Linked DNA regions of Homo sapiens. The protein of the gene in region 4 interacts with the protein of the main gene of each other region in a biochemical or structural test. Each region holds a gene or a part of one and is shown on either strand. Other genes may lie near its edges.

Evidence for each region.
Region 1: of the proteins of NOXA1 (region 4) and MAPK11, one has a biochemical effect on the other in vitro, tested with the Homo sapiens proteins (one study listed by BioGRID).
Region 2: of the proteins of NOXA1 (region 4) and PRKCA, one has a biochemical effect on the other in vitro, tested with the Homo sapiens proteins (one study listed by BioGRID).
Region 3: the proteins of NOXA1 (region 4) and NOXO1 form a complex in vitro, tested with the Homo sapiens proteins (2 studies listed by IntAct).

Annotation. Positions count from the first base shown.
Region 1 is NC_000022.11:50,267,345-50,274,779, reverse strand, and holds the start of MAPK11 (mitogen-activated protein kinase 11), read left to right. Parts: upstream 1-4,399; 5' UTR 4,400-4,487; coding exon 4,488-4,603; intron 4,604-6,830; coding exon 6,831-6,960; intron 6,961-7,152; coding exon 7,153-7,211; intron 7,212-7,297; coding exon 7,298-7,409; intron 7,410-7,435. UniProt on the Homo sapiens protein: Serine/threonine kinase which acts as an essential component of the MAP kinase signal transduction pathway.
Region 2 is NC_000017.11:66,683,525-66,690,651, forward strand, and holds part of PRKCA (protein kinase C alpha type), read left to right. Parts: intron 1-3,586; coding exon 3,587-3,743; intron 3,744-4,777; coding exon 4,778-4,912; intron 4,913-5,426; coding exon 5,427-5,523; intron 5,524-7,127. UniProt on the Homo sapiens protein: Calcium-activated, phospholipid- and diacylglycerol (DAG)-dependent serine/threonine-protein kinase that is involved in positive and negative regulation of cell proliferation, apoptosis, differentiation, migration and adhesion, tumorigenesis, cardiac hypertrophy, angiogenesis, platelet function and inflammation, by directly phosphorylating targets such as RAF1, BCL2, CSPG4, TNNT2/CTNT, or activating signaling cascade involving MAPK1/3 (ERK1/2) and RAP1GAP.
Region 3 is NC_000016.10:1,978,441-1,986,273, reverse strand, and holds NOXO1 (NADPH oxidase organizer 1), read left to right. Parts: upstream 1-4,804; 5' UTR 4,805-5,094; coding exon 5,095-5,160; exon of another isoform or gene 5,161-5,254; coding exon 5,255-5,335; exon of another isoform or gene 5,336-5,542; coding exon 5,543-5,618; coding exon of another isoform or gene 5,619-5,633; exon of another isoform or gene 5,634-5,729; coding exon 5,730-5,907; exon of another isoform or gene 5,908-6,092; coding exon 6,093-6,277; exon of another isoform or gene 6,278-6,370; coding exon 6,371-6,484; exon of another isoform or gene 6,485-6,731; coding exon 6,732-6,849; exon of another isoform or gene 6,850-6,924; coding exon 6,925-7,222; 3' UTR 7,223-7,357; downstream 7,358-7,833. Other genes in the region: GFER (FAD-linked sulfhydryl oxidase ALR), read right to left, coding at 246-408, 1,331-1,527, 1,798-2,055; TBL3 (transducin beta-like protein 3), read right to left, coding at 7,589-7,722, 7,803-7,833. UniProt on the Homo sapiens protein: Constitutively potentiates the superoxide-generating activity of NOX1 and NOX3 and is required for the biogenesis of otoconia/otolith, which are crystalline structures of the inner ear involved in the perception of gravity.
Region 4 is NC_000009.12:137,418,472-137,426,423, reverse strand, and holds the start of NOXA1 (NADPH oxidase activator 1), read right to left. Parts: upstream 3,032-7,952; 5' UTR 2,895-3,031; coding exon 2,718-2,894; intron 179-2,717; exon of another isoform or gene 177-178; coding exon 94-176; exon of another isoform or gene 1-93.

The DNA.
Region 1 (7,435 bases), on a different chromosome or scaffold from region 4:
GGCTGGGAGGGGTGCTGGGGGGAAGTGGAGGGGGCTGGGAGGGGTGCTGGGGGAGGTGGAAGGGGCTGGGAGGGGTACTGGGGGAGGTGGAGGGGGCTGGGAGGGGTGCTGGGGGGAGGTGGAGGGGGCTGGGAGAGGTGCTGAGGGGAGGTGGGGGGGGTGGGAGGTGGGACTGCTTCTGGTGCCATCTGGTGGCTTCTTTCGTGCAACACATTCTTACCAAATGCCCGCTGCACACCACGCATGCACTGTCCTGAGCGCTAGGAACAGCAGCAACCAGGACGGGCAGGGCTCAGAGCCTCCCCTGTGTGCCAAGAATACAGACAGCCCAGGCAGAGGGCATTCGGTGCTCCAGACACAAAGTGAAGGCCCAGCTTCAAATGTGGCTGGATCCAGGCACACATCCTGAGGTTCTGCTGGTCTGGACTGCTAACCCACTCACGAGGATCCATTCTCAGGCAGCCCCAGCCTGTCTCCCCACCTGGGCACGTCATGGCTGGGGTCTCTTGATGGGCAAGGCCTCCATTGATCGAGTCCCCTTTGGACTGGGGCAGCTCTGTAGGGACCAGCCCCACAGGGTCAGTGGGTCTCTCCGTGTGCGGCGACGAGAGAGTGTAGAAATAAAGACAGAAGACAAAGAGATAAGAGAAAAGGCAGCTGGGCCCAGGAGACCACTACTACCAATGCATGGAGACCGGTAGTGGCCCCGAATGTCGGGCTGCGCTGTTATTTATTGGATACAAGGCAGAAGGGGCAGGGTAAAGAATGTGAGTCATCTCCAATGATAGGTAAGGTCACGTGGGTCATGTGTCCACTGGACAGGAGTCCCTTCCCTGCCTGGCAGCCGAGGCAGAGAGAGAGAGGAGACAGAGAGAAAGACAGCTTACGCCATTATTTCTGCATATCAGGGACTATTAGTATTGTCACTAATTTACTACTGCTATCTAGAAGGCAGAGCCAGGTGTACAGGATGGAACATGAAAGTGGACTAGGAGTGTGACCGCTGAAGCACAGCATCACAGGGAGACGTTTAGGCCTCTGGATAACTGCGGGCAAGCCTGACTGATGTCAGGCCCTCCACAAGAGGTGGAGGAGCAGAGTCTTCTCTAAACTCCCCTGGGGAAAGGGAGACCCCCCCCCCTCTTTCCCGGTCTGCTAAGTAGTGGGTGTTGTTCCTTGACACCTTTTGCTACGGCTGGACCACGGCCCGCCTGGTAACGGGCGTCTTCCCAGACGCTGGCGTCACCGCTAGACCAAGGAACCCTCTGGTGGCCCTGTCCGGGCATAACAGAAGGCTCCCACTCTTGTCTTCTGGTCACACCTCACTATGTCCCCTCAGCTCCTATCTCTGTATGGCCTGGTTTTTCCTAGGCTATGATTATTGAGCAAGGATTATTATAATATTGGAATAAAAAGTAATTGCTACAAACTAATGATTAATGATATTCATATATAATCATATCTAAGATCTATATCTGGTATAACTATTCTTGTTTTATATTTTATTATACTGCAACAGCTCGTGTCCTCTCTCTTGCCTCGGTGCCTGGGTGGCTTGCCGCCCACACAGCTCCATTCAAGCCACGATGAAAAACGGGTGGCCATCTCTCCCCCACAAGAGAAAGGGGTACAAGGCCAACTGACATCCCCTGCTCCAAGGATCCCTGAAATGACATTGGGTTCCCCCCTTACCCAGAGACATGGCTGGTCAGGAGATCAGAGCAAGGGGGTGGACCGAAGGCTTAAGTGCTGAGCGGGAGGTCTCAAGTAGGGAGCTGGGAACCTGGAGGCCTGGCTTCCGTACTAGACCCCTGCAGTCCACCTCTTCCCTGTCCCACTGGGCAGTCAGGAAAGAAGGGAAGGGTCAGTGAGACCCCACACACATGAAACTTGGGGCTGGGGAGAGGCTGCAGGCCCAGCAGTCCAGCATCTGGGTGGGGGCAGGCACCGGGTAGAAGCTGGGCATAGCTGCTGGGGTGCATGCGGTGGGCTGGAGTGGTCAGCTGGCGACAGACGAGGGGTGGCCTGTCCTTCCTGGTGCTTTCCAAGTCCCATTTTCCTCCCAGAGTGGTGGGAGGAGAGGTGGCGGGTAGCTTAACAGCCCAAGGCTACATCCTGCTTGCTTCTTACAGGCAGGACAAGTCCCCTGCTAAATCAGCTCCGCGACCACCATCGCCTGGTCTCCCGGTGAGCAAGGCCAGATTTGCCTTTTAGGAAGTTCACTGACTGCAGGAAGAGGCCAGCTGGGAGGGACCAGCAGGACCAGAGAGGAGCTGTCACAGTGACAGCTCCAGTGAGGAGGGGTGGCCAGGACCAGCGGGGGTGGGGTGGGGGCATGAGCACGGAGAAGGGGTGGCCTGCTGTATTCAGGGGCCACAGCGAATCAGCTGGGTAGGAGAGGCGCCTCTGGCCCAGGGCTTCTCACTCCTGCCCTGCCACCGGCCCTTCCTGGCTCCCCTGCCGCTTCCCCTCTGGGCCTGGGACTGTCCTCCACCGGCGGCTCCCTCCAGGGGGGCTTCCCTTGCCCCCGCCGAGCTCTGAAGGTGCCTCTCCTGGAAGATGGCCTCCAGGCCCTGACGCCACCCGAAACTCCTCAGTGATCACTCCCTTGCAGTGCCACGACCCCACACTGTCCCCAGTAGGCACATGGGCGGGACCTCTAATGCCTGGGCAGGCAGGGGGTTCCCGGGGCAGGTCAGCTCAGTGATGAGAGGGGCCCGTTTCCACCGCCCCCCGCCCCCACCCCCACCCCACACGCCCGCCTGACCTGCTGAGCGGCCGGGGCCTGCAGCGAGGCCGCGAGGATTGCGGGCGGACGCCTGGGGGAAGCCTGACACCTCCCCACCTCCATGTCCCCCACCCTAGGGGCGAGAACGGAGCCGCCCAGTCCACGGGGAGGCGCAGGGGCGGGGCCGGTCGCCATGGGAACCCGACTCCCGCCCCGCCCGGCCGCGGCGCAGACAAAGGCCGCTCCCCTCCCCCGGCGGCCGCGGCCGCGGTTCCCACAGCTCCGGGGCTGCGCTCCGGCCTCCTCCTCCTTTAGCTGAAGCTCCATTAACTCTGCACAAAACCTCGGCCCGCCTCGGCCGGGCCCAGTGAAAGGCGCTCCCGGGCGGGGGCCCTCGGGGAGGCTGCCCGTGTCCTCGCCCCAACCCAGCCCGAGCGAGGAGAGGGGCCATCCCCGGGCCCGCGCCAGGCCCCCAGCCGGATGCCGGCTTCCAATGGGGAAACTGAGGCACGGGGCTTGGTCATGCAAAAGGGGCCGGAGCGGCTGGGACTGAGACCCGTTCCTTCGCCGCGGTCCGCATGGGTCCGGTGGCCAGCACCGTGCTGGCTGTTTTAATTTGGTTGCCGATATATAAAAATCAGATTTGACATTAAAACTCGGATTTTAGTGTTTTAAAAAAGGAGTGTTTTGGGCCACTGGGATCCTGATTTCTCACTTCGCTGGAGGGGGTCGCCCAGCCGCGAAGCCTCCCACCACGGCTCTACCAGGGCGGAGGTCGGTGGCCGGTGTTCCAGGGAGCAATGCTCCGCCGAGCCCCGGTCGCTTTCAAGTGGGAATAAAAGTAGCTGTGCGGCCCCGAGCGCGGCAGAGACGCCGAGTGGGGCGCTGCCCCCGTCACCGCCAAGGCAGCCCCCCGCGCCTGCCCGCCCGCGGGGCTGACTTCAAGGACCCTGCACCCAAAGGCGGCTCCTCGGACCTGGGATAGTCAGGGTGGGCTTCCTAGAAGAGGTGGCCGCTAAGGAGGAGGAAAGGTTCTGGGCAGCAAAAAGGATCCGTTTGGGGCCGCTGCTTGTGGGTAGGAAGGCCCCGGGGTGACGCCGCTGTCCCTGGTCCTGACAGTCCAGCGGTCGCGCCTCTCTCAGAGGGGAGGTCAGGGCGAGCCGGGGCAGGAGGCCTGGAAGGTTCCCGGGGCGCACCGCGGACCAAGGCCTGCAGGTCCTGCGCAAGAAAGCCAGGCCGGCCCTGTCCCAACGCCTTTCGGCTTATTTTCCTATCCAGTGCCGAGTCTTTAGAAGGTGCTATTCATATTTCTGTCTTGAAAAATACTTCCCATGGTTTACCCCTGGCTTCTTCGCTTTTGACGGTTCTCCCTCGTTGGGGAGGGCGCCGCCGGGGTAGGGAAGCCCGGGCCGAGCCCAGACGCGGGCGCAAGTCTGGAGAAGCGCGCGGCCCCCAAGAGGTGAGAGCCGGAGGGAGGTGTCCGCCCTCGGCGCCCCCCCCGGGAAGGGGAGGGCTGGTTTCCGCTCTGCCACCGCCTCCGAGGCGCAGGAAGCAGCGCATTTGTCTCCGGGAACCCCCCCACGCCCCGGCCACCCAGCCCGGGAAATCCGCCCGGGCCTCCCGGCCCCGCCCCGGAGCCCCGCCCCGCCCGCCGCCGCCGCCGCCTCCGCCGCCCTCCGCTCCGCTCGGCTCGGGCTCGGCTCGGGCGCGGGCGCGGGGCGCGGGGCTGGGCCCGGGCGGAGCGGCGGCTGCTCCGGACATGTCGGGCCCTCGCGCCGGCTTCTACCGGCAGGAGCTGAACAAGACCGTGTGGGAGGTGCCGCAGCGGCTGCAGGGGCTGCGCCCGGTGGGCTCCGGCGCCTACGGCTCCGTCTGGTAGGGGCGGGGCAGAAGGGGTGCTGGGTGGGGGCCGGGCCGGGCCGGAGAGCGCGTCCCCTCCTCGCCCGCGCGAGGTTCTCGGCGTGGGGAGGGGCCTCGCCCTGCCTCCGCCCCCGGGCGCCAAGCGGATCTGAGGAATGAATGGGGGGGCGGGGGTGGCGGCGTAAAGAAACTTTCCAAGCAGACGCCGTTACCGGGAGGGAGGGGGGTCCTCCGGCCTCTCCCGATTCGGACTGCTCCCCACCAGGCCTGAGGCCTGGGAGGTCACAGCTGGCGTGAGGGTGGGTCTCACGCGACCGAGCCCCGAGCCACCCTGATGTCCGGGCCCCTAAACGTCTGAGCACCCACCTGAGATTCACTGAGTCGGGTCAGGCAGCCCCCCGGGGTCTAGCGGATGACCCTCCCCCGCCCGGGCTGGGGGCTATTGTCTGAAAAGGGAAGCCCCGCTCCCGGAAGCCAAGATCTCTCCCCCTGGGATGGCCTCAGACTCCCCCTCAGACCACAAACCCCACTTAGGCCCTGGGGCCAGAGGACCTGGCCTGGGGCCCAGGAAGACGACAGAGTCTGGGTGGGGGAGGGGGGTCAACTGGGCCAAGGTCTCTGTTAGACCCGGGTAGCCAGGGCTGGAGGGGCTTAGGGTGAGGTAGTTACCGGGAGTCCTAAGTTTCAGCCTCCATGTTGACTGGGAGGCTGATCATGGGTACAGGCTTTGAGAGGTGCAGCTGAGTCCTCACCATGGCCAATGCCGCTTAGCTGCTGCCCACTGGGGGGTCCTGGTGGGGCGCAAAGGCAGAGGCAGCCAGGGCAGAGCTCTGCCCCAGGCACTTGCAGGTTGGAAGTGGGACCTCTAGGCCCACCAGATTTGGAGCTCAGGAGCCGGCATCAGGGGCCGGGGGTCCCAGGGCAGGCTGTCTTCTGGTGTGGTCCCTAGCCTTCCATCAGAAGCTGTAGGTGGGTCATTCTAGCCATCATGCCAGCACAGATCTGTCTTCCTCTTTGAGACCTGAAGGGCAGGAAGAGGGTCTGGGACGGTGTGGGAGTGGCCATAGGGGACTAGGGTGGGTCATGGCTGGACTCGCCGTCTGGGAGTTGCTGAGAGGTGTCCGGTTCTCTGAGTGAGGCCTGGTCTCCCCCCTTGCACCCCTGGCCCATTTTCTTAGTTCCACTGCCAAGGCTGCGGGCCAGGTGCCAATTCCCTGTCACCTGACCGCACAGATGCAATTGGCCAAAAGAACTTGCTGCCCCACGTGCAGGGCCACTCCCCTCACCACCTCAGGAGCACCTTTCCCTGGTCATAGGCTGGGAGCATGGCTGCCCCAGGCACCTCGACCTGCGCCCATGAGCATCCCAGACCCAGCAGGAGCCGCTCCTGCTCCCCTTGTGTGGGCATGGGGGGTGGCCTCAGCCTCCACTTGCTCTGAGACAGGATCCCAAGAGACAGAAGTGGGAGGGAGAGAAGAAGCAAGTATCAGCCAGAGGGAACAGGCTGTGCAAAGGCCTTTCCTTTAGCAGGGCTGAGGGCAGTGGGACATGGGAGGGTGGGATGAGGGTCACCTGCAAAGGGAGGGTGGGCTCAGGAAGCTGGTGCAGGGTAGAGGGTCTGGACCTCTGGGAAGTGGGGCTGGGCGAAGGGCTGTTCTGTGGGTCCAGCTGACGCCCTCAGCTGTACATCACCTTCTGTCCCGGTTTTGTTCCAAATAATGATGCAATAAACACCTCTGACCAACTTTCCCTCCGTATTTTGAACATTCGGAGGCACCAGGGGTCCAGGGGCTTTGAGGTGGCTCTAGAATCCCCCTCTGTGAGCCTCCTGGGCCCATGGGGTCTATGGGGCAGAGGGAGGCCCGTCTGCTGCAGGTGAATGCCAGTGACTGTTTTCCTGCTGTGTTTTTCCACGCTGGATGGGGCACCTCTCCCCCAGCCTTGCTTTGAATGGGGGCCCCTGGTTGAGCGTGGGAATCAGTGGGGCCAGGGGACAGAGAAGGTCCAGGACCTTGTGGGGTGAACACACGCATGGTGGTCCAGCCCCAGGGGCTCCTTCCCAGCAAGCGCGGAGTGGGTAGGCCCGAGGGTGGGAGGCCGAGCTGGGGCGGCGGGGCCGGGGCAGAAAAGCCCCACGGCCCCATCCCCACGGAGAAGCGGCGAGAGGGACGCCGCCCGGGTCCACGCGCGTGCGGCCGCCCTCGGACCCCTCCCGGCGCCGCCTCACTCGCCCGCCTTCCAGTTCGGCCTACGACGCCCGGCTGCGCCAGAAGGTGGCGGTGAAGAAGCTGTCGCGCCCCTTCCAGTCGCTGATCCACGCGCGCAGAACGTACCGGGAGCTGCGGCTGCTCAAGCACCTGAAGCACGAGAACGTGAGCCGGGGGAGGGCCGTGGGGGGAGGGCGCGTGCGGGGGCGGGGCCGCGGCGCAGCCAATAGGCGGGCGAGCCCTGGCGATGGGGGCGGGGACACAGGGGGCGCGGCCTGGCACTGGGGGCGTGGCCCGGGGGGAGCTGAACGACAGCCGGGGGTTCGTCGCCCGGCCCTGACGCCCCCCGCCACCTAGGTCATCGGGCTTCTGGACGTCTTCACGCCGGCCACGTCCATCGAGGACTTCAGCGAAGTGTGAGCGGCGGGGCGGGCGAGGCAGCGGGGAGCGCGTTCGCGGTGGGGCGGTGGGGCCCTGTCCTGACCCCCTGACCCCGCCCCAGGTACTTGGTGACCACCCTGATGGGCGCCGACCTGAACAACATCGTCAAGTGCCAGGCGCTGAGCGACGAGCACGTTCAATTCCTGGTTTACCAGCTGCTGCGCGGGCTGAAGGTGGGGCGCCCTGGGCTTCGCGGGTC
Region 2 (7,127 bases), on a different chromosome or scaffold from region 4:
CCAGGGTGTAGCTGAGGTTGAGAATGTCTGCCCACCTATCCTGGGGCAGCGTCCTCACCCTCTGACTCCATATCTTTTTTTGGGGGGGTCGGGGGGATAGAGTCTCACTGTGTCACCCAGGCTGGAGTGCAGTGGCATGATCTCAGCTCACTGCAGCCTCCGCCTCCTGGGTTCAAGCGATTCTCGTGCCTCAGTCTCCTGAGTATCTGGGATTACAGGTGCCCACCAGCACGCCCGGCTTCTTTTTGTATTTTTAGTAGAAATGGGGTTTCACCATGTTGGCCAGACTGGTCTCAAACTCCCAACATCATGTGATCCACCTGCCTCAGCCTCCCAAAGTGTTGGGATTTGACTCCACATCTTGATCACATCTTTCCCTTGTTTCTCTCTTCTGTCTCTAGCCCTTGTTCTCATCCGCTTCCCCACTTCAATTTTCCTCTTATTTTCTCTTTCCTAGCTTCCCCAGCTTCCCCTCTTCCATCTTCCTTACAACTATTCCTATGAGTAATGCCCCCTAGCATTGCCTCTTAGCCTGACATTCTTGAAACCATACAGTTGAAACCCTGTTAGAACATTACCACACTGTACTGTTTTCCCCGGCATTTGCTTACCACTCCGTAAGCTGTTGGTGCAGTTTCTGCACATCTAAGATTGTTCTCCACCAGTAACTTGTATTAAGAGCAATTATGATCATCACTATTGTGCTCTCACCGAGTGCCTATCACTGCTCTAAGCACTTTACATGGATGAGCCTACATAATCCTTGCTTGAAGGAGATATAATTTTCCAGATGAGGAAACTTAGGAAGATAAAATAGCTTGTCCACAACCACAGAGTGGCAGAGCCAGAATTCAAATGCAGGCAGCCTTGCCCCAGATCCTACACTCTGAGCAGATGGGACCCTAAGTTAGTTGCTCGTAATCCTGATTCAGGTGTCCTGGCATGCCATGAGTCACACTCACACAGGCTGTTCTCTGCTGTGATAAGAAATTGAAATTTGGACCCACTATTTGCTTCAATGACATTTAGAATTGATAACTCTTTTTATTTTCAACTTAAATGGTAGTATCTCAGTAGGACACTCACAGCTTTAAATCCCATCAAGATTTTAACTCATCACCATTCCGAAGAGATCTTACTTAAATGATTTTTTTTGTGTGTGTTGTCTGTCAGGAATATAAATTGAAGATATAAAAGCCAGCACCCGCAATAATTCTGCAACTGGTAGGAGGCAACCCAGGACCTCTTGGTGACCTTAATAAGGGTCTTCTTTGGCTTATCCAGGATGTGACCTTCTGCAGCCTCCAGTATTAGACATTCCAGGGCATTTTCTGCCTTTTAAAAAGCATCTGATTCTCATTCTGGTGTTTAATCAGAGAGAGACCGTTGGCCTCTTTCCATTCCTCATGGGAGAGCTCCATTTTTGTGCTCACATTTTTCATCTTTGGTGATACTCAGGGTTGATGTTTTAGTGGGCTAGACTTTCTGCATTGGATTAAAACCTTTCACATGAGCTTGGTGAATTCTCCAGTGACCAAGTCCCCTGGGGGCCTCCAACCCTATAGATTCCAGCATGATAAGAGTGGAAAGGAGTCCGGAACATCATGCCTGGGGTATAGTGAGCACTCACACCATGGATTTATTTTTTCATTTTCCAAGCCCCCAACCATGTAAGGTATTTTATAAACATTATTTTATTTGATTCTCCCAACAATTCTATACCACTGGAATTATGTCCGTCTTCATTTTTCTAGATGAAGAGACAGAGGCTCAGAGACTAAGCTTCCCAGTGCTCAGGGTTACATGGTGAAGGAGGCAGAGTTTGCATGTACACCTGCTGAGCCACAGGGACCATGCCTATGTGTTTTATTTGTGTGCTATCTGCTCCCTGAGATGAATGAGGTTAGATATTTTCTTAGGAGAAGAAATACTTGGAAGGCACAAATGGGGTATGACAAACTATGTTCAGCTTCTCTGTGGCTAGCAGACCTGAGCTAGCCCCCTCCCCCTCTGTATTTGAATATAGTCCCATCTGTTACCTACCTATGTAAGGCTTCCAGGTAAGGAGGATGTAAGGCTGTTGGCTGGCAGGAGGCAGAACACAGTAGATCCACAGACTAGTAAAGGCAATGCCTGTCTCTGACTTCCGATCTTAGGGCTGTACCTCCCTCATTTGTGTCCAAAGACCCAACATCTTTAGGGTTCTCCCCCTGCCTCCTCCCCATCTAACCCTGCCCACTGACAACTCCAGTGCCTTCTTCTCAAGTTCTTCTGTAATTCTTAATTTAATAATCAAACTATGCTGATAAACTATGCTAATTGCCTAGATCTGTGGTTCTGCAACTTTTATGGACATCAGAATCACCTGGAGGCTTGGTAAACACAGATCATTGGACCTCACCCCAGAGTTCTGATTCAGGAGGTGTTGCCAGTGCCGCCGGTCCAGGGACCACACTGTGGGAACCACTGAATCAGGGAGCCTGGTCCCAGTTATATGTGTGTTGATGGTGTCTGACCAGTTGGGTATCTGATAATTCAGCCTTACTGGGAAAGATGCCATGGGAAGATAGGAAGGCATTTGAGATAGGAGACTCAGGCTTTTGTCCCTTCATCATAGCAGTAGATAATTATCTTTTACGTTGACGTGCAGTGGCTTTAGACAGCTTCTCATGGTTGTGAGCCTCTGCCAGCTCTTAAATCTTTGAGCCTGTTTTCCTCTGTGGATGAAATGGCCTTTCCTTCTAATTATTTTTGATTCCCATATCAGGTTTCTCAAGCTAAGATTGCATTGGAAGCACCTGGAGGTCTTGTTAAAGTGAGGATTCTGAGTTATTAAGTCTGAGGTGGGACCCAAGGTTCTGCATGTCTAATGAGCTCCCAGGTGATATAGATGCTGCCGGTCCATGGACCAGCAATTCTGAGTTACAACTGTATACAGCAGTGGTGCTTGCCCCTGCTGCCCAGTAGAATCACCCAAGGAGCTTTTAAAAACGAATACTTGAGCCACATTCCTTGGAGATTCTAGTTTAATTCTGGGGATTAGAATTTTTAACTCCCCCATTCCCCAACCCCCATGTGATTCCAATGTACAGTCAGAGTTGGAAGCCATTGGCCTTTACCCACAAAAAGGGATAACACCTTCTGGGAGCTCAGGTGCGTGTGTGGCACCATAGACCAGGTTGGGCTGGTCGCTTCCATGCAGGGAGGGTGCACCATTACTCCTGGGGAGCTGCAAAGGTCACCTGGGAATCTTGTTAAATTACAGATTCTGCTTTGGCAGGTTTGGGGTGGGACCTGGGTTTCTGCATTTCTAATAGATATCTTAGTGTTGCTGATGCTGCCAGTCCAGGCTGGTGCTAAGTCCCAAGACCCACCCACAAGGGCCCACACGATGCCCATTATCTCTGCCGGTGGTGGCAGCGGGTAGCTTTTCTCATGTCGAGTGTTAGAGGCTTTTGGCTTCCACCATCTGTCTCCTTAAACGCCATTCTGACGTCTCTTTTATTCAGCTTGGTATTGACACAAGACAGCGGGCAATATAGGTCTGTTCTCTTTTTGTAATATTTTCTTCCTTCTCTCTTCACAGTACGAGATGCAAAAAATCTAATCCCTATGGATCCAAACGGGCTTTCAGATCCTTATGTGAAGCTGAAACTTATTCCTGATCCCAAGAATGAAAGCAAGCAAAAAACCAAAACCATCCGCTCCACACTAAATCCGCAGTGGAATGAGTCCTTTACATTGTAAGTGGTCTCTCCTTGATCAAATTTCATTCCTATACACCATGCAGTTGCCCACCTCATTATTTGAGGTAATGAAGTAGGTTCATTATAAACGTCTTTAAACATGTCTTCAGTCCTAAGACCTCCTCAGGCTGCCATTAGGGAGGTAGCTATTAGCACCTGTTCGATAGATAGTAATTTGATTTATCAAGAGTTGCATAATTCAGGCCTCAGATTATTATTATCTAATCTGGATAAACAATTCTATTTAAGGAAATAGAATTAAGGTAAATAGAATTTAAGCTAAAAATGTGTCAGGTGTGTCCACCTCTTGATGGACTTAGGTTCTTTTGGGAGTTAGGGGAGGGCATAAGGCAAGAATTTAAATAATTTTTAGACCACAGAATGAGTGAGTAACATAGAAAGTGTTATTGCCACTGAAATGGGAAGATCATTCTTGCCTTCAAAGAGAGAAGACTTCCTGGAAAAGGTGACATTTAAAGCCAGCCTGGGAGGGTTGCCAGGATTTCAGAGGTAGAGAAGGGGAAGAAGGAAGGAGGGAATAAATAAATCAGGAGGACTGAGTGTAGCTGAGGGAAAGCAAGAGTTCCCCTTTGTAGAGTAGTATACAGGAAGCAGTTTTTCTGTGGACAACCAGAAAGGTAGCTGTCTGTTCTAGAGGGACCAGCAAGCTCTGCTCTATAAAGGATCAGATAGTATATATTTTAGGCCTTGTGGGTCATATAGCCTCTGTTGCACCGGTATAACTTTCTAGTGCCAAAGGAGCCATAGGCAATATGTAAACAGATAGCCATGGCTGGGTCCTAATAAAACTTTATTTATAAAAATAGACAGTGGGATAGATTTGGCCCATGGGTCATAGTTTGTTAACTCCTGTAGCGCTTTGCTTGCCAGCATAAGGGGTTGGTATTTTACTGGACCAGGAAGACAAATATACTATTTCTTTATCTCAGGCTCGAGTCATATACATGTGGTATCTCCCAAGAAACCATGATCAAGATAACCTAGTGTTTGCATGTGTGTGTGTCTTGTAGCAAATTGAAACCTTCAGACAAAGACCGACGACTGTCTGTAGAAATCTGGGACTGGGATCGAACAACAAGGAATGACTTCATGGGATCCCTTTCCTTTGGAGTTTCGGAGCTGATGAAGATGCCGGCCAGTGGATGGTATGGAAGCCGCTTAGGTTGAGTATGTCTCAAAGCATCAGACCATTTAGACAGTTAGGTTTCAGTCTCTCAAATGTCAGTTGAGGCTGGACATGGTGCCTCATGCTTGTAATCCCAGCACTTCAAGAGGCCGAGGCAGGTGGATTGCTTGAGCTCTGAGGTTTGAGACCAGCCTGGGCAACATGGAGAAACCCCACCTCTACAGAAAATACAAAAATTAGCCAGGTGTGGTGGTGTACCCCTGTAGTCCCAGCTACCCAGGAGGCCGAGGCATGAGGATCACTTGAGCCCAGGAGGCTGAGGCTGCAGTGAGCTTTGATTCCGCCACCGTCCCCCAGCCTGCACAACAGAGCTACCCTGTCTCAAAAATATAAAAATGTAAAAAAAGTCAAATGTCTACTGATCTGGCTGTAGCCTCTCCGTAGGATGCGTTTCACAAAACCGCTCGACTAGAGGCTGCAGGAAAGGCTTGTTAAACTTGCGGTGGTAACTCTTCTTCTCCCGTCCTTGAAAGGTACAAGTTGCTTAACCAAGAAGAAGGTGAGTACTACAACGTACCCATTCCGGAAGGGGACGAGGAAGGAAACATGGAACTCAGGCAGAAATTCGAGGTGAGGATAACAAAATGCCCGGAAACACCTTTCCTTTAGAAAGCCCAACTTCAGGAACGGCCGAGATGTTGTGGTCACATTTTTGAAAAGCAAAAAAAAAGTAATCTCAATGTTAATGATCTTTTTCTTTATTTAAAAACATGAATGTTGTTCGTTCCCTTTCCTTTGCAAGCTGTTGACTTTTTATGACTCTTACCACTTAGAAAATGGAAACTGGAAATATCGCAGAACTGAGAGCATGGTTGATTTCTGCATAAGAGATCTGTTTGCACATCACTGGGGAGAGAAGCAGGCTCTGAGGGCAGGATTGTTCTTACAAAGGAGGACTTGTGCTCTTCTGAAAAGGAGGAAGTCATTTTGGCCTTTCCTTGGGAGCTCATTTGTGTGTAATCAGGCTATCATCTGAGACTTTTTTTTTCTACAGAAAGTACAAGGTTCCTAATTTTGTTCTGAAAGAGCAGCTTAAACAAATATGCCTTTGTGTGTGATCCCTTTTTATTTATGCTCCAGATGTTTAGCAAAGGCCACCTCCTTCTCTTCTTCCTCTTGGTATTTGTGTTTGCCTCTGTCCCGGATTCACTGGTCTTTTTACTTCTCCTCCTCTGCTCCTTACTCCTCTTTTTCTTCTCCTCTCTCTCCCTTCTCCTCTTCATTTACCGACATCTCAGCTTTTAGTAAACGGTTCTTTTCTGTAAGCACCTTCCTTATGTTTTAAAGGCACAACTTCTAATATTTGTCTGTTTCTCTAATCACCCTTCATTTTGGCTGTTCGAGGGACTCCTAGAGTAGCCTTTTCAGTCTGTGTAACTGGTTAATTCCTTCGTGAATCTTTCTCTTCTTCAGACTTGTTAGAATTCCCTGGAATTTCCCCGCTCTAGAGCAGTACACGTGCACACGCACACATGTGTGTAGATGCTGAACTGCTACTGAAATGTTGACACTAATGGGATGCTGATGCTCCTCTTTTCCTTCTTCTGTTGTTCTCCAAGAAACATACAGATCTGGGGGGTGGGGAAGAGTGGTCTTGGGGGGATAATAAACCTCCTTCATGCCCCCCACAAAAGAAACATATAGGTCTTATCCAGAGAGAATGAATCCCAAAGGATGTAAAACATGCAGTTGTTCAAATTACTTTGTTAAACTGATGTTTGGTTAAAGTTGATGTTTGTGGCAAATACTAAATGGCAGGGGCTCTTTGGTTAGATGTCCTTGGGAGCACAGACGAGTGAAATGATTCACAGATAATAAATGGCAATGAACGGCAGGCCTCGGGATTGAAGCAGGAGGGAGTGGTGGAGACTGGGGTGAGCTGGTAAGCTTCAGCTCTGTCTGCAGGTGGCAGCTACGGCTACCCTGCCCCACTCGATGTTTCTCACAGGCGAGTCCAGGCCCTCTATTGCCGGATCTTCCTTCTTCCAGAGAAGCCAGAAATCCAGGTTTTTATATGATACATTCTGATTTATCTTAATGTTGGCAGAGTTCTAATGTTAAAACTTAGAACCAGGCCCTGTGCAGTGGCTCACTTCTGTAATCCCAGTACTTTGGGAGGATGAGGCAGGCAGATCACTTGAGGTCAGGAGTTCAAGACTGGCCAACATGGCGAA
Region 3 (7,833 bases), on a different chromosome or scaffold from region 4:
TCCCCTGCAGTTCAGCTGCAGCTCCTTGGGGTCTCCACTGAGGAGGGGGCCAGTGGGTACCTGCTGTGGGCACCTCCACTTCTGCTCCAAACCTAAGAGGGGCAGGGCAGGTCCCCACAGGCAGTGTCCTGGGGACCACCCAACTGAGACACAACAGGCTCTGGCTGTGATGCACTTTAATGAGTGCCCTGCCCCTATCCAACCATGCCTGGCTAGCTGTCCCATGAGCTCTGGCTGACCACCCTCTAGTCACAGGAGCCATCCTTCCAGCCGTCGCGCCAGCGCTCATCCACTTTTGAGCAGTCGAAGTCAGGCTTGCCCAGCTTGCGGTTCACTTCATTGTGCAGGTGGCACAGCCACTGTGTGAAGCATGCCCGGGTGCGGGTGTCTGGGTGGTTCCTGCACAGCCTGTGTAGGGAGAGCAGGTAAAGAATGAGAGGACGCAGCGGCTCCACTGCCCCTGCCAGTTCCCTGTCTGCTGTCAAGGAAGGAGAGCTGGGGCACTGCTGTGAACTACACCTGGGAGTGCCCTTATGCTCCAAGGTACAGGCACTCCCAGAACAGGGCTGACCCTGCAGCTCCCCGGGTGTGATGAACTCCCAGGGCTGCGCAAACACCCACCTGGACAGCTTGGCAAACTCCAACGAGGCCTCAAGGCAACACATTACAGCACAGACCTGGCAATTTTATAAGCTCCTAACACCCAGGAAGCGGCATCCAGTGTCCCTGGCCTCAGGCAGAGTGTGGCCTGGGTGGGGCTGGGCACAGCCTTGTAACTGAAAACTGGACTTGTTTCTTAGCATCTGAGGGCAGGCCCTGGTGCGTCAGTTCAGCAAGAGACTTCATTCTAACTGACCAGCCTTATAGCAACAATGGCGGCTCTACCCTATACATCTGGCCTAGAAACACCTGCAAGGGCCAGTGCTGGCTCTTGGATCCCTCAGTGAGGAAGAGATGGCTCTTGGGAGCAAAAGCAGTGGATTTCCAAGATTTTAAAACCAGAAGTCCTACTCTAGAAGTCAGGCAAAGTGGAGTCTTCCCTAACTTGCGGGAAACCGCCTTCAGTGCCAGACAAGGCAGGGAATCCCTTCCTGGAAGCCCTGTGGCTGTGGCAGGAGCAGTACCCAGCAGCAGATCCCGACAGCTTGGCTTCTGAGACGAGAGGAGGAGGCTCAGATAGCCCCAGTCCTCACCTGTTGGAGGTCCCTGCTCCTCAGCAAACTTCTGCCACCTCTGCATCCGTTTCTCTACGTTCCCCGCTATAACGTCAGCCAGGAGCCCCAGGCCCAGGCTCCAGTGCAAAGCTCTGCTGCGTGCAAACACATCTTACCTTTTTCTTAGGTCTTCAGCACACTCCTCACAGGGGTAAAACTTAGAAAATAAATGTATGAACTGGGCCATGTCTTGCTGCTGTTCTGGGGTGGGCAGGTCGGGGTAGTAGGCGGCCAGGGTGTGGAGGACAGCCCAGCTGTGGCGGCCCAGTTCCTCGCGATCCGGCGGGCAGTCCTCCCTAAACTTGGTGTCCCGCTGCGGAAGCAGGCCGACCGAGAGTGAGTTCATTCTCCGAACAAAGGCGCCCAAAGCTCCCCACTGTACGGCCCAGCCGGTGGCCCACTGGACTCCGGCCAAAGTCCTGCAGACGATCCAACCCACGCGCGGATGAAGGCTGTAAGGCCGGGCCTACCCGGGGGGCAAGGTTCAGGGACAGGCAACCCTGGGAAGCTCTGCCGGGGTACCTGGGCGGGGGCGGGGACAGGGGCTGCGCGGGGCTGGGAGAAATCGGGCAGGGAACTGCACCTTCTGCTGCGTCCGCATCCACGTCTTGAAGTCGACGCAGGCCCGGCACGGCCGCCTCCGGGAGGCGTCCTCGGCGACAGGAGAATCGGAGGTCGGCGCCTGGGCTGGCGTCGAGGCCGAGGCGGCCGCGTCTCTCCGCCCCGCGCCCCGGCCCCGCGCGTCGGTCGCCAGGTCGTCCATCATCTCGGAGCGCGCGCCCCCCGGCAGGAAGAAGAGGTTCCCGCCGTGGAAGCGGCCCCGCTCGCCGGGCGCCGCCATGTTGCCCGCGCAAGGCCTGCCGGGTCAGCTCGGCCTCCAGATGAGCCTCCAGGTCAGCCTCCAGGCCAGCGCGCGGCCACAGGAGCCGGAGGCGCGCGCCGTGCTCGCGGGGGCCGGGCCCGAGCCGGGGCTGGGGGCAGAGTCGGGGGCGGTGCCTGCTTGCGGGCCCGTGTGGAGGCGGAGCCAGAGGCCGCGGCGCTGGCCGGGCCCGAGGACAGGGGCGGGGACGGAGCAGGAGGGTCGGACCCTGCTGGCGCCCTCAGGCGTCGATCCGCGGCGCACGCAGGGGTTGCGCCGTCCGTGGCGGCCGTCCCGCTTTCTCCAGTAAAAGAGCAGTGTGTGGCGCAAGGTGCGCCTCGGCCGCGCTGTGGACCCGAGCTGACACCCAGGCAAAGTCCGTGTTGCGGCCCGCGACGTCCCCATCGCTCCGTTCTGAGTGTCCTGCGTGCCTGCGGCCAGGCTTTGTGCCCTCCGCTGAGGGGCGCGTCCACCCGCTGGCTGCCAAGCGCTCTCTCAACGCGGGCCGGGCGTGACCGCACAGATTGCGGCGCGCGCTAGGGTCCTGGGCTCTTGTCCCCTCCCTGGCGCCATGGCAACGGGCGTCTGGCAACGCAGGGCGCGGCGCGGCCGCAGAGGGTTGGCGCGTGCCTTGGGCTCCCTGGCGCCCCTCGCCGGCTGTCGCGGATCCTAGAGCCTGGGATGAGGGGTCGGGCTCCCGGTTGGAGCGGCCTCTGGGATTCCTGTGCCTCCTTGCGTTCATTTATCCATTCCGCTATTATTTGCGCAGTGACCGCTCTGTTCCAAGCGCTGTTCCAAGTGCTGGGCAGAGCAGGGAACACAATTCTGTTCCCTGACCTTCTCTGTTCATAATCCAGTGGTCAAGACAGGAAAAAAAAACAAGGACTCACACTCATAAATGTTCACGTACAAACTGGTGGGTCCATGCAAGGGTGTAGTAAATCTGGAAGGCCTCCTTGAGGAGGTGACCCTTTCTGAAGGATGAGGAATCAGCTGAGGAGCGCCTTCGAGACCAAGCCCAAGGTGGCAGGGTCTTGGCATTTTGCAGGAACAAAAACGCCAGTGGGACGCTAGGGAGGGTTGTAAGGTGGGAGGGGAGATCCAGGGACGGACAGGGGCCCACCAAAGACTTGGTCGGCAGCTTCGGGGATTGGGAATTTATTATAACGGTAGGAGGGAAGATGCTAGACAGTTTTGGGCAAGGTTACCCAATCTGATCCCATTTCAGTTTGCTGCAGATTCCGCTGGCTATCATATGGGGAGTGGATTTCTTTTTTTTTTTTGAGACAGGGTCTTGTTCCGTTACCCAGGGTGGAGTGCAGTGGCGCGATCTTGTTCACTGCAGCCGCGACTGCTTAGGCTCAAGTGATCTCCCACCTCAGCCTCCCAAGTAGACTACAGGCACACGCCACCACGCCCAGCTAATTTTTGTATTTTTGGGGGGCACAGATGGAGGTCTCAACATGTTGCCCAGACTGGTCTCGAACTCCTGAGCTCAAGCAATCCCCCTGCCTCGGCCTCCCAAAGTACTTGGATTACAGGTGAGGCACTGTGTCTGTCCTTGGAGTGGATTTTGTAGGGGCAAGTGAGGAGCATACAGATGGAGGGTGGGGTGTACTATTCAGGCAAGAAAAGAGGGTAGGGGAGGAAAAAGTGGAAACCATGCAGGGCTGATGGGGTGTGGGGCAGGAGCTGTCAGCTGGGGTAGGCAGGTGGCCTCAGAATCCCTCTAGGCCTCTGCTTGTGAATAAATCCTCCCCAGCTTCTCCTGTCTTCCAGGGGAGCAAGGTCTCCCCTGGGTTCACACGCTGGACCCCACCAGGTCAGCTGGGCCCTCAGCTGAGACAGGGAGAAGGTGACAGCTGGCTGGGGGAACCCTGCAAATCAGCCCTATGTGAGCAGGTGTTCATTGCCCATGCCAAGACCAGGGACAGCTTGAGGGCATGAGAGAGAGTGCTGGTGGGACAGACACACAAAGGCCCTTTGTTGCAGCCAGGGCAGCTTCCTGGAGGGATGCCTTAGAGGCTGACTGCTCCCTGAAGGGGCTGGAGTAGGTGCATCCCAACACAGAACTGGTGGCCCCAGCACGAGGAAAAACCACTGTGTGCCAGGGTTGAATGTGGCTTCCGAAGCCCGAACTATAAGGAAGCAGCCAGAGAGGTGGGGCACCTGGGCGAGCCTCTGCCCAGGCCATGTTTGCAGTAAGTCATGGCAAATCGTGAATTGAGAGGTGGTTCTCAAAACAGCCCTAGTGACCACTTCCCTGACCACCACCCCCACCCACCAAATGCCAGTGACTGCACAGATGGGCCCTCTTTCTCCTACCCCAAGTCTCCTCACTGCAGGGGAACCCCTGGGGTGAGCCTGTGAGGTCTGCCCCTCCCCCAGCATGTATAGAACAGCTCACAATAATTACGCATTTAACACACATTTCCTCCTCTATGAGTTGGGGACATTAAGAGACCTTTCCTCCAGCATTAGGATTAAGTCAGACAAAGCACTTAAAGCTGTAAGCACTGAGTCCTTGGTTCTGCACAGAAATCCCCAGGCCAGTTCAAAGTTGTTGGGCGCACCCTGGCAGGGCAATTACCTCACAGGGTAGGGGAATCCAGAGAGGTGGGCAGGACAGGTGGCGCTTTGATTAGCCCTGCCTTCTCCTCCCTCCTCCTGTGGCCAGAGGCAGGCAGGAGGGCCCCAGGCAGCAGTCCCGCCTACCCTTCGCCCCTTCTTCAGTCTTGCACGCCTCCAGGGCTGGAAAGCTCATTCTTCTTCTTCCTCCCAGCAGCTCTGCCTGGAAGTCCCCCAATCCCTGTGCTCCTGCCCCCAGATCGTGGGCTTGGGGGACAGCAAGAAAGCTGCAAAGGACTCAGCTGGGGCGGCTCCACAAGGACCCCACAGGCTTGAGGTGTTGCCAGGATTCTATCCCAGGGGGTTTTCTGGGTCCCCCAGAGCCCTCTCAAGCACGGGGAGGCAGAAGGGTCCTCGCCCATTTCAGGAATCTGCAGCCTGGAAGCCACAGCCATGGCAGGCCCCCGATACCCAGTTTCAGTGCAAGGGGCAGCCCTGGTGCAGATCAAGAGGCTCCAAGTAAGACCTGGCTGGGTCCTTAGTGGCCCCAAGGGATAGGAAGGGGGTGCCTGGACCAGCACCTCCACGGCACTCCCAACTTTTTGTCCCCCAGACGTTTGCCTTCTCTGTGCGCTGGTCAGACGGCAGCGACACCTTCGTGCGCAGGAGTTGGGACGAATTCAGGCAGCTCAAGGTGAGTGACCCTGGGCCACCCTGATGCCGCGGTGGCGGCTTCCCCACGCGGCTGCCTCCCACTGGACTGCCTCCCATCAGTGACTCCCACTGGAGGCCCTTCGTCCCTGCTGAAGCTCCCAGCCCCTGCCATCCGGGTGAGGGACCCCGCCCTCTCAAGGGTGCACAGTGGGCTCTGGAAGACCAATGCCCTGGTTCCCGCCCTCAGAAGACCCTCAAGGAGACCTTCCCGGTGGAGGCGGGCCTGCTGCGGAGATCTGACCGCGTTCTCCCAAAGCTTCTCGGTCAGGCCAGCCTGGGTACGGGAGCGGGGAAGGCGGTGGCTTGCCTGGGGGCGCCAGGGACCAGTGAAGCCCAAAGCGGCGTATCACAGTACGTTTTTGTGGTGCCTTAAGATGCACCACTGTTGGGACGCGTGGGGCGCACGAGCCGCGGCCTGGCGCGCCTGCAGCTGTTGGAAACCTATTCTCGGAGGCTGCTGGCGACTGCAGAGCGCGTGGCACGGAGCCCGACGATCACTGGCTTCTTCGCACCGCAACCCCTGGACCTGGAGCCCGCGCTGCCACCCGGCAGGTGCCTGACTCGCCCCAAACTCCCAGCATGCAGCGGCGTTTGGAGCTGGGAGAGGTCCAGGGTGGGGGGGAACAGCCAGCGAATAGGGGCAGAGAGTGGGAGGCTGGCGGTCTTGCCGGGGTGGCGCCCCCAGTTTCACCCTCCCCATCCGCCTACCTCTCACTCGTACGGGCTGCCCTTCCCAGCCGGGTGATCCTGCCCACCCCAGAGGAGCAGCCTCTTTCTCGCGCTGCGGGCCGCCTCTCCATCCACAGTCTGGAGGCTCAGAGCCTGCGCTGCCTGCAGCCCTTCTGTACCCAGGACACGCGGGATAGGCCTTTTCAGGCGCAGGCCCAGGAGAGCCTGGACGTGCTGCTGCGGCACCCCTCAGGTAGGGCCCCCCAAGAACCCAGGGATTTGCTCCTCTGCTCCTGGACCCGAGGGAGCCTCGAGATTTGAGTCCCTGCCCGCTTCTTGCGCACAGGCTGGTGGCTGGTGGAGAACGAAGACCGGCAGACCGCCTGGTTTCCAGCGCCCTACCTGGAGGAGGCGGCCCCGGGCCAAGGCCGGGAGGGAGGCCCGTCCCTAGGGAGCAGCGGTATGCGCCTAACCCCACCCCTCACGCCACCACTGCGGCTTGACCGTGTGGCAAGACTGGGCCAGAAGCACCGCGGGCAGGGCGGGCCAGGAGCCCGTGCTTGGTCTCCGCACCTAGAGGAAGCCCCGAACCGGTCTTAGAGCGGCCCCGCCGTCAGCAGACTCAAGCAAGGAGAATGTGGAGAAGGGTGCGGGCGGGCCTCGTCCTCTGTGGCCCCGCGGTGACTCCAAACACCCACTCCCACCAGGTCCCCAGTTCTGTGCTTCCCGCGCCTACGAGAGCAGCCGCGCAGATGAGCTGTCCGTGCCCGCGGGGGCGCGCGTGCGCGTGTTGGAAACGTCAGACCGCGGCTGGTGGCTATGCAGGTACGCGGGAGCGGGCGTGGGCAGGGCAGGCTAGCCGAGGCGGGCGGGGCCCTAACCACACCCCGCCCCTCGCAGGTACGGCGACCGGGCGGGCCTACTCCCCGCGGTGCTGCTGCGGCCGGAAGGGCTGGGCGCTCTCCTGAGCGGGACGGGGTTCCGTGGAGGAGACGACCCGGCGGGTGAGGCCCGGGGCTTCCCTGAACCCTCCCAGGCCACCGCCCCTCCCCCCACCGTGCCCACCCGACCTTCGCCGGGCGCCATCCAGAGCCGCTGCTGCACCGTCACACGCAGGGCCCTGGAGCGGCGCCCACGGCGCCAGGGCCGCCCTCGAGGGTGCGTGGACTCTGTGCCGCACCCCACGACGGAGCAGTGAGCGCGAGGATCCCGATGAGGGGATGGACCGCGCCATCCCAGGGCTGGGGAGGAGCGGGGAGGGCGGATCTCCCTGGCCAGCAGGGATGGGAGGGGGCCATTTGCTGTTCCTCTGAGTAAAGCTTGTTCTGCATGACCCCCACCGTCTAAGCGTGCGGAGCCGCGGGCTGGATCTCTGCCAGGCCAGGGTGCGGGATGGGCGTGGCAGGGCCGAGACCATCAGCTCCAGTGCCCTTCTGGCTGGCTAGGTAGGGTGTTGGCCAGGGTGGGGGGCTGGACTGCAGTCCAGAGAGACAGAGCCGGCCAGGAGAGCGGCCTTTATGGGTTTTCCAGGGGTTCAGGATGGACTGGAGAGAGGCCGGACCGGCTAGGGCAGTGCGCCTTTATGGGTTTCCCAGGGGGTGGGGGCGGCGGCCGGCACAGGGAGCTTCATGTTGTGCCACAGGAAGTCCAAGAAAGCGGCGGCCTGGAGGGTCCTGCTGAGCCGCTGAAAGTGCCGCTCTGGGGTTGGACAGAGGGAGGTCAGGGGGGTGGTCCACACGCCCACCAGGATCCCCCAACCCCAGGCTGTGCCCACATACCAGTGTAGGGCAGCAGGGCCTCAAGCGCTGC
Region 4 (7,952 bases):
GTGGATGGAGAGGGAGGAGGAGGAGGTGCAGGAGTGGACTCTGCAGGGAGACAAAGGGCCGTCAGAGAAGGAACAAGGCACCCCTGTACTCACCTTGCCAGCTGGAAGTTGGCCACTCCTCGCTGGAAGAAGCCAACCGCCATGCAGGTGTCCTTGGTCACGGCTTGGTCAAATGCCTGGGGACAAAAATGCCCACGGGATGCCAAGGTCTGTAACCTGGTCACGCAGCATCACAGATACAGCGTGATGGGTGACAGGGCCACGGAATTCCGTCAGCCCCTGGGGACCCCCCACAGCCCCTCCTGCTCCTGTCCAGGAACCTTCGGAGCCCCTGCCTGGGCAGGGCTGTCGCCACTCAGGTTGCCACAGCCCACCCAACCCCAACCCGTCCAAGGCGCAGAGCCCACTGAGGTGCTGCTAAAACCAATGTGTTTACCATGAGCACAAGGACAGAGGCCAGAAAAAAGTGTTCCAGTATGTTAATAATAGTTACCTCTGGGGAGTGGGGTTATGCAAGATTTTTGTCTTTTAAAAATCCTTTTTTTTTTTTTTGAGACGGGGTCTCGCTCTGTCACCCAGGCTGGAGTGCAGTGGCTCGATCTTGGCTCACTGCTGCCTCCGCCTCTGGGTTCAAGACATTCTCAAACTCCTGACCTCAGGCAACCTTGGCTGTCACATACTGGAGACGAGATAACGCAGTCCAGATCCCAGAGTCAGCAGCTAAAGAACTGCATTACAGGCCGGGCATGTTAGCTCACGCCTGTAATCCTAGCATGTTGGGAAGCTGAGGTGGGCGGATCACCTGAGGTCAGGAGTTTGAGACCAGCCTGGCCAACATGGTGAAACCCCATCTCTACTAAAAATACAAAAATTAGCTGGGCATGGCGGCACGCGCCTGTAGTCCCAGCTACTCGGGAGGTTGAGGCAGGAGAATCGCTTGAACCCGGGAGGTAGAGGTTGCAGTGAGCCAAGATCGCACCACTGCACTCCAGCCTGCAAGACAGAGCGAGATTCCGTCTCAAAAAATAAATAAAATAAAAATCCTTTTTTGATAGTTCATGCAAAATGACACCCTAGAAATCTATTAGAATCAGAAAGAACAACACACGTCTTCATGTGTTTATCTGTGTGTAAAGCACAGCTCTTCCTTAAACCAGACTCAGGAGGACACAGAAGGTTCTGAACAGGGACCGTGGCCATCAGTTAAATGTGTGTGACAGGAAGGGTGCTACGGTCTCTTTCACAAATCTGGCTGAGTGGGGGCTTGTCGTTGAACCAAGTTCACACAGGTGTGAAGTGTGGCGGCTGAGCACAGGCACGCAGCCCTGATGTGGGGTGGCGGCTCAGGGCCAGCAGAACCCACCTGTCTGCCCCAAACGTCACGCAAGGCTCCTAACAAGAGACAGCAGTTCCAGCGACACCCTCTGCACCCTGGGCTGCCCCTCACGTGATCGGCTTTATGAATCATAGCTGTTCCATCTGCTTTCCTAAGTTCCCATATTCCTAACATGCATATGCTGTGGGTTAGTCGTATGACTTTCACTGCGTCCCCTCTCTGTAGTGAAACCAGGCACAAGAGCACAAGTGACTGGGTTAGCCCCGGACATAGGATTTGTTGCTGAACCACCTGGTGTCTAAAGATTACATTCCCTTTCTTGGATAACATTTTAAAATGAAATCATTGTGGGCCGGACAAGGTGGCTCACATGTGTAATCCCACCACTATGGGTGGCCGAGGAGGGTGGATCACCTGAGGTCAGGAGTTCAAGACCAGCCTGACCAACATGGTGAAACCCGTTTCTACTAAAAATACTAAATTAGCCAGGCGTGGTAGTGGGCGCCTGTACTCCCAGCAACTAGGGAGGCTGAGGCAGGAGAATTGCTTGAACCCGGGAGGCAGAGGTTGCAGTGAGCCAAGATTGGGCCACGGCACTCCATTCAGCCTGGGTGACAGAACGAGACTCCATCTTTGAAACAAACAAAAAAATGAAATCATTATGGAGGTGATTGTAAATTTGTACGCAGCTTTAAGACACAAGAGAGGGGGGTCTCATGCGCTTTGCCCAGTCTCCTCCAAGGGGGATATTTTGCCAGTCAGGGGCGTGGAGACCCTCCCACAGCGCGCAGTTCCCTCTCCTTTAAATCACTGCTGTCACCGAGCCTTCAGTAACCGTGGGCACCTGCCTGCTTCTGCGGGGTGCTTGGGACTGAGCGGGGGTGGGCAGCGCTGGCGTTTGGGATGCGCAGGAACAGGCGGCCCCGGAACGCGAGGGGGCACGAGAAGGGCACCGGGCTCCGTGCAGGGCCTCGGCCGCTGCACCCTGGCACCCTGGACTCCTGGCTGTTTCGGGGAGTGGGCTGGGGGAGGGCTGAGGGCTCTGAGGAGGAGACTGACCCGGTCTCCCGGCCATGACCACAGGCGCAACGCTTTCCCCTTAGGGCAGGGCGGTCCCTCGGGCCTGACCCAGCCCAGCAGCTTCCCCCTTCCCGGTGTGAGTCACCCTCGGGCCCCGGCCTCTCCCGGTGACCGCCGCGCCCCCCAGCGCGGCCTCGCTTAGCTCAGGTGCGGCCCCCCTGCTCGGCTCCCACCTGCCGGGGCGTTCGCTGGGTCGGGGGCGGCAGGGCGACCCCGTGACGGTCGGGGAGGGGCGCTGGGCCCTCCCCAGGGGCTCGAGGCGGAGGCGTCGCCCGCACCGGCCTCCCCACGCCCCGCTCACCCGCAGCGCGGCCTCGGGGTCCCCGGCCAGCAGGTGCACGCAGCCCGCGTTGAAGCACAGCCTGGCGGGCGGCGCCGGGACGCCCGAGAAGAGGTGCAAGGCGCGGGCCCAGTCCCCACGATCCACAGCCTGCGCGCCCAGGTGCCAGGCGCGCACCAGGTCCCCCAGAGAGGCCATGGCGGCCGGTGGCGGCGCTCGAGGAGGGGCCAGGATCCCGCGGAGGGGCCGGGGCCGGGGCCAGGCGGCGGCGCGGGGCTGCGGGGTCTCCGAGGCGGGCAGAGGTGCGGGCGCCAAGCGCCAGGTGCAACCCCGCTGCCCCGCGGCGCCCCCTGGCGGCAGGCGCCCGCCCCTCCCCGGTAAGGCCACGCCCCCGCCAGAAACGGCTACGCCCACTCCAGACCCTCAGGCCTCGCCCACCTCCCATTCGGCCCCCGCCCCGGCCGGACTTCCGCCGGGAGCTTTGTGCGCCCGGCTTCCTCGCCCCGCCCGCGCTGGCCTTGGTGCGCCGGATAAAGCCCTCCGGGCCAGCGGCTGCGGTCGGGCCAAGGTTCCGCGCCGGGCGTGGACGGTGTGGGGCGGTCCCGGCCCCGCAGGTGAGCGACCCCGGGCCGCGCGGGCCAGGTGGGCGGTCTGGGCGCCGGGGGCAGAGCGGGGCCGGGCCGGGTGCGCGTCCTGAGGTGAGGGCCGTAGCTGGGAGTGAGCCGGGGGCGGGCCGCCGGCTCTCCCGGGGTGGGGAAACTGAGGCCCCGATGGGGCGGGGAAGGTGCGTTCTCCCGCAGGGCCCCGCTCCGGAGGCCGCCGAGCAGCCGGACGCCGCGGGGAGCTGAGCCGACCCCGGCGACCCCGCCGCCCTGTCCCGCAGGGCCTGCCCTCCTCCGCGCCTTCCGAGCACGGACATCACAGGACCCGGAGGCCCTTCGCTCCCTCGCCGAGGAGGAGGCGCTCCCGGTGGGACGCGCGCGCGCCCGCCCTGCCCTCCCCGGGAGAAGGGACGGGCGCCTCCCTGCAGGGGCCCTGGCTTCCTGTCCACCGGCGCTGAGTCCTGTATTAGTTGTCAACCTAAAATAATTAAAAGGGTCAGAATGTGGTGCCCGGTGGGTTTATTCAGGCACAGAGGTCGAGGGCGGCCTGGGTCACCAGGTGCAACGGAGAACAAAACAGAGGCTCAGGTTTTTAAAGAAAACAGAGCCCATCGGAGAGCAGGTGGTTTCGAACGTTGCCCAGGAGCTCACTGGCTTGTAGAAATGGCATTGGTTCGCGATTGACCACGGCTTGGTGTCATCAGTGGATAGTTACTTGGCTCGAGGGGTAGTGAGGGGCTGCGGTTTCATTTGAAATGCTTTCTGGCACTTAACATCAAGCTTTCTGGGCCCACAGTTTAAAAGGGCTTTACATTCCTCAGATAAATGATTTTTTTCTTTCTCATTTGCCCCCCTTTTGATCAAAATCTTTCTTCTTGAAAGCATTGATTATCAAAATCTGAGGGTCAGAGTGTCCCCTCTTGCTGGGAAGGCTCATTCCCACATAGTCCTGTCCCATGCCAAGCAGGGAAGGAGGAGACATTTCAGGGAGTTTTTTTTTTTTTTTTTTTTTTAAGAACACCACAAACTGAATTGGAATGGCATTACAGGGTGGCAAACATGAGGTCTCAGTGAAGTCATTAATTTATACAACTGCTGTCACCTGTTGAATCATCTCTAGTTTTTAGAAACACCATTAATTTTAATTTTCTCAGAAGTAACACATAGGACTATAACCAATTTGTATGCCAGGATGAAAAAAACAAACCTGTTCCATTAGGGAGACAACTAAAAACATGAAGAAACTAAAATCCATGTTCTTCTTTCTTTTTATTTATTTGTTTACTTAGAAATGGGGTCTTGCTCTGTCACCCATGCTGGAGTGCAGAGGCACGATTCCCACTCATCGCAGCCTTGAACTCTTGGGCTTAAATGATCCTCTTGTCTTAGCCTCCTGAGTACCTGGGAATACAGGTGTTTGCCACCAGGACCGGCTAATTTTAAATTTTTTTGGTAGAGACTAGGTCTTGACACCTTGCCCAGGCTAGTCTCGAACTCCTGAGCCCAAGTGATCCTCTCATCTGGGCCTCCCAAAGTGCTGGGGTTATAGGTGTGAACCTCTGCCCAGCCAGGTTCTTCTTTGAGACTTGTAGCCAGAAGATTGTTCAGGATTTAGTCCAGATTGTAGGAAAATAAAAAATACAATGATCAGGGCTAGAATCCAGTAACAGGTATGCTGTAGTTTTTCTCTGAAACATAATTTTTCTCTACTTCCCCATTTCTACCAAAGATAAATCTTGGTAAGACCAATTTACTTGTAAAATAAATTTTAGGATTATATTTGGCCTGATTATTTGCCTAAAGTACAACAGTGGTGATTGGCCATATAGGCTCCTTTCTAAACTGGCTGGAACTTTGCCATAAGGAATTTCAGACTTTTTTTCCCCACATCAGACAGGTAATGTGCTGGCGTCATAACAGCGTTTGAAGGAGACAGACCCTACACATGAGGCAATCATCATGCTTATGAACTACAAGAGGGTCAGAATAGACCTTTAAAAGCCACTTGAGGGCTGGGCATGGTGGCTCATGCCTGTAATCCCAGCACTTTGGGAGGCCAAGGTGGGAGGATTCATTGAGCCCAGGAGTTTGAGACCAACCTGGGCAACATAGCGAGGTCCCTGTCTCCACAAAAAATTTAAAAATTACCTGGGCATAGTGGTGCTCACCTGTAGTCCCAGCTACTCAGGAGGCTGAAATGGGAGGATCGCTTGAGTCCAGGAGATTGAGGCTGCAGTGAGCTATGATCGCACCACTGCACTCCAGCCTGGGTGACAGAGCGAGACCCTGTCTCTAAACAAAACAAACACTTCCCATGTCTAGGAAGCCAAGCCAGTGGCTCCCCATCACAGTGTATGTATAATACCTGTATGAATTTGGGGGGGGGGGTGAATGTCTGTCCTCCAGGTCCCAAACTATCTTGAAGTTCCTGGATCTGTCGGAAAGTGACATTCTTTCCTTACCTCAAGGCCAAGAACCTTTTAAGGGAACTATGTAAACAGGGCACCAGTCCAGTCATCCCAAGGGGCTTTTTATTGGCTCTATAAAGCGAACCTCGATTCCTCAAAGCAGTCTCGTCATATCCAAAAATACGTCATCCCAGTCCAAGCCTTGGTAGAATAACCAGGGTCTCCAATTGTGTCCTGTTACAAGGACAACAGATTCTTACTGAACTCATGCAAAGAACTACATTGCCATAAAATAAGAATACTCATGAATCGCTTCCAGATTTTTGAGAAATCAGGTAGAGAAAAAGACAAATATTTCAGTTTTGCTCACAAAAGTATATGTCACTCAATTGCTATAGCTATAAATAGCTCAAAAAGAAAAAGGTTTTCTGACTCTGGAAAACAAAATATAAAAAGAGTCAGCAAGGTTTCGATAACAACAAAAAATCATAAAAAGCATTTCAGGCCTCTATCAGTTCAGTTCTATGTAATTTGCTGGGGTTTTTTTTGTTTTTTTTTTAGGCGGAGTCTCCCTCTGTCGCCCAGGCTGGAGTGCAGTGGTACAATCTCGGCTCACTGCCAGCTCCGCCTCCCGGGTTCACGCCATTCACCAGCCTCAGCCTCCCGAGTAGCTGGGACTACAGGCACCTGCCACCATGCCCGGCTAATTTTTTTGTATTTTTAGTAGAGATGGGGTTTCACCGTATTAGCCAGGATGGTCTCGATCTCCTGACCTCGTGATCCGCCCGCCTTGGCCTCCCAAAGTGCTGGGATTACAGGCATGAGCCACCGCGCCCGGCCGCTTTTTTCTGTATGATGTTGGGTTAACAATCCTCATGAATGCATCAGCTTTTAAATAAGAGTCCTGGAAGTTTTTATCTGGTCTACTGGTGTGATCTCCCAGGTTATCGGAAGTCTGTATACTTGTCAATGTCCTTTCCATGAATTTCCTTGAAGAAAATGCAAATTTTGGACTGTACCTTATTTTATTTTATTTATTTATTTATTTTGAGATGGAGTCTCGCTCTGTTGCCCAGGCTGGAGTGTAGTGGTGCGATCTTGGCTCACTGCAACCTCCGCCTCCCAGGTTCAAGCGATTCTCCTGTCTCAGCCTCCCAAGTAACTGGGATTACAGGCATGAGCCACCATGCCCAGCTAATTTTGTATTTTTAGTAGAAACGGGGTTTTACCACATTGGCCTGGCTGGTTTCGAACTCCTGACCTCAAGTGATCCACCCGCCTCAGCCTCCCGAAGTGTTGGGATTACAGGCATGAGCCACCGTGCCCGGCCTTAAACTGCATTTTGAGAAGAATCAAAGTAAAACAGTAATTTTCTGCAGATGACAAAAGACTTAGAGTAGCCATGGGTGAAGACGCGATTGGCAGGGAATTTGGTTACTTCTGAGGTTAAAACAGTTTAACATATAATCGTAATCACGACTGATAACATATACCAAGACATGTCAGAATTTTTAGGAATCTCATACAATTTTGGAACATATGTTAATAATACATTTATACCAATATAACTCCAACAGCATTCCACATTTGACAATGCTTCCTGTATGATTTTAACATACCACATAAGCCTCGTACATCTCCCTTGGACTTCTCGGGGTTCCTATTTGTTATATCCAAGTTAGTTCAGGTGAAAAAAACCCTTAATGTTAGGACTTGAAATTTGGTTTTGGGAAGTCAAATATCAGAGGCTTAAAACAATCTCAAAATAGGACCACAGGTCACTGTAAAATAAGCCATTCATTTAATCAAATTGGTAATTCAGAGATTTCCCAAACCAAAAACCTTTACTATGACAGAGAGGAGACTTAGTTTCCCAAGCAATCAATAGACCTACTAAAGACAGCGTGAGGCAAACAGAATGTCTCTCCCTCTTTCCCCTTTTTTTTTTTCTGTTTACTCAGAAGATAAAAATATTTTACAATCTCTTATTACTACACGAAATGTTGTTCAAAAGAAAAACAAACTCTGCTTTTCTTATACATCTCACGTACAGAATTGTTTCTCTTATATTTAGTAGTTTCAGTTACATATATTAATTACAGTGTTAACTTCGTGACCCTAATTTTCCGTTAAAAACTCAGCGAGTAATTTTGAACTGTATGTGTAGATGGAAACCATTTCATCATGTTTTACAGAGATGCATCTCCTAAATTTTTTTGTTAACAGATGTAAATATATTTAGCTTT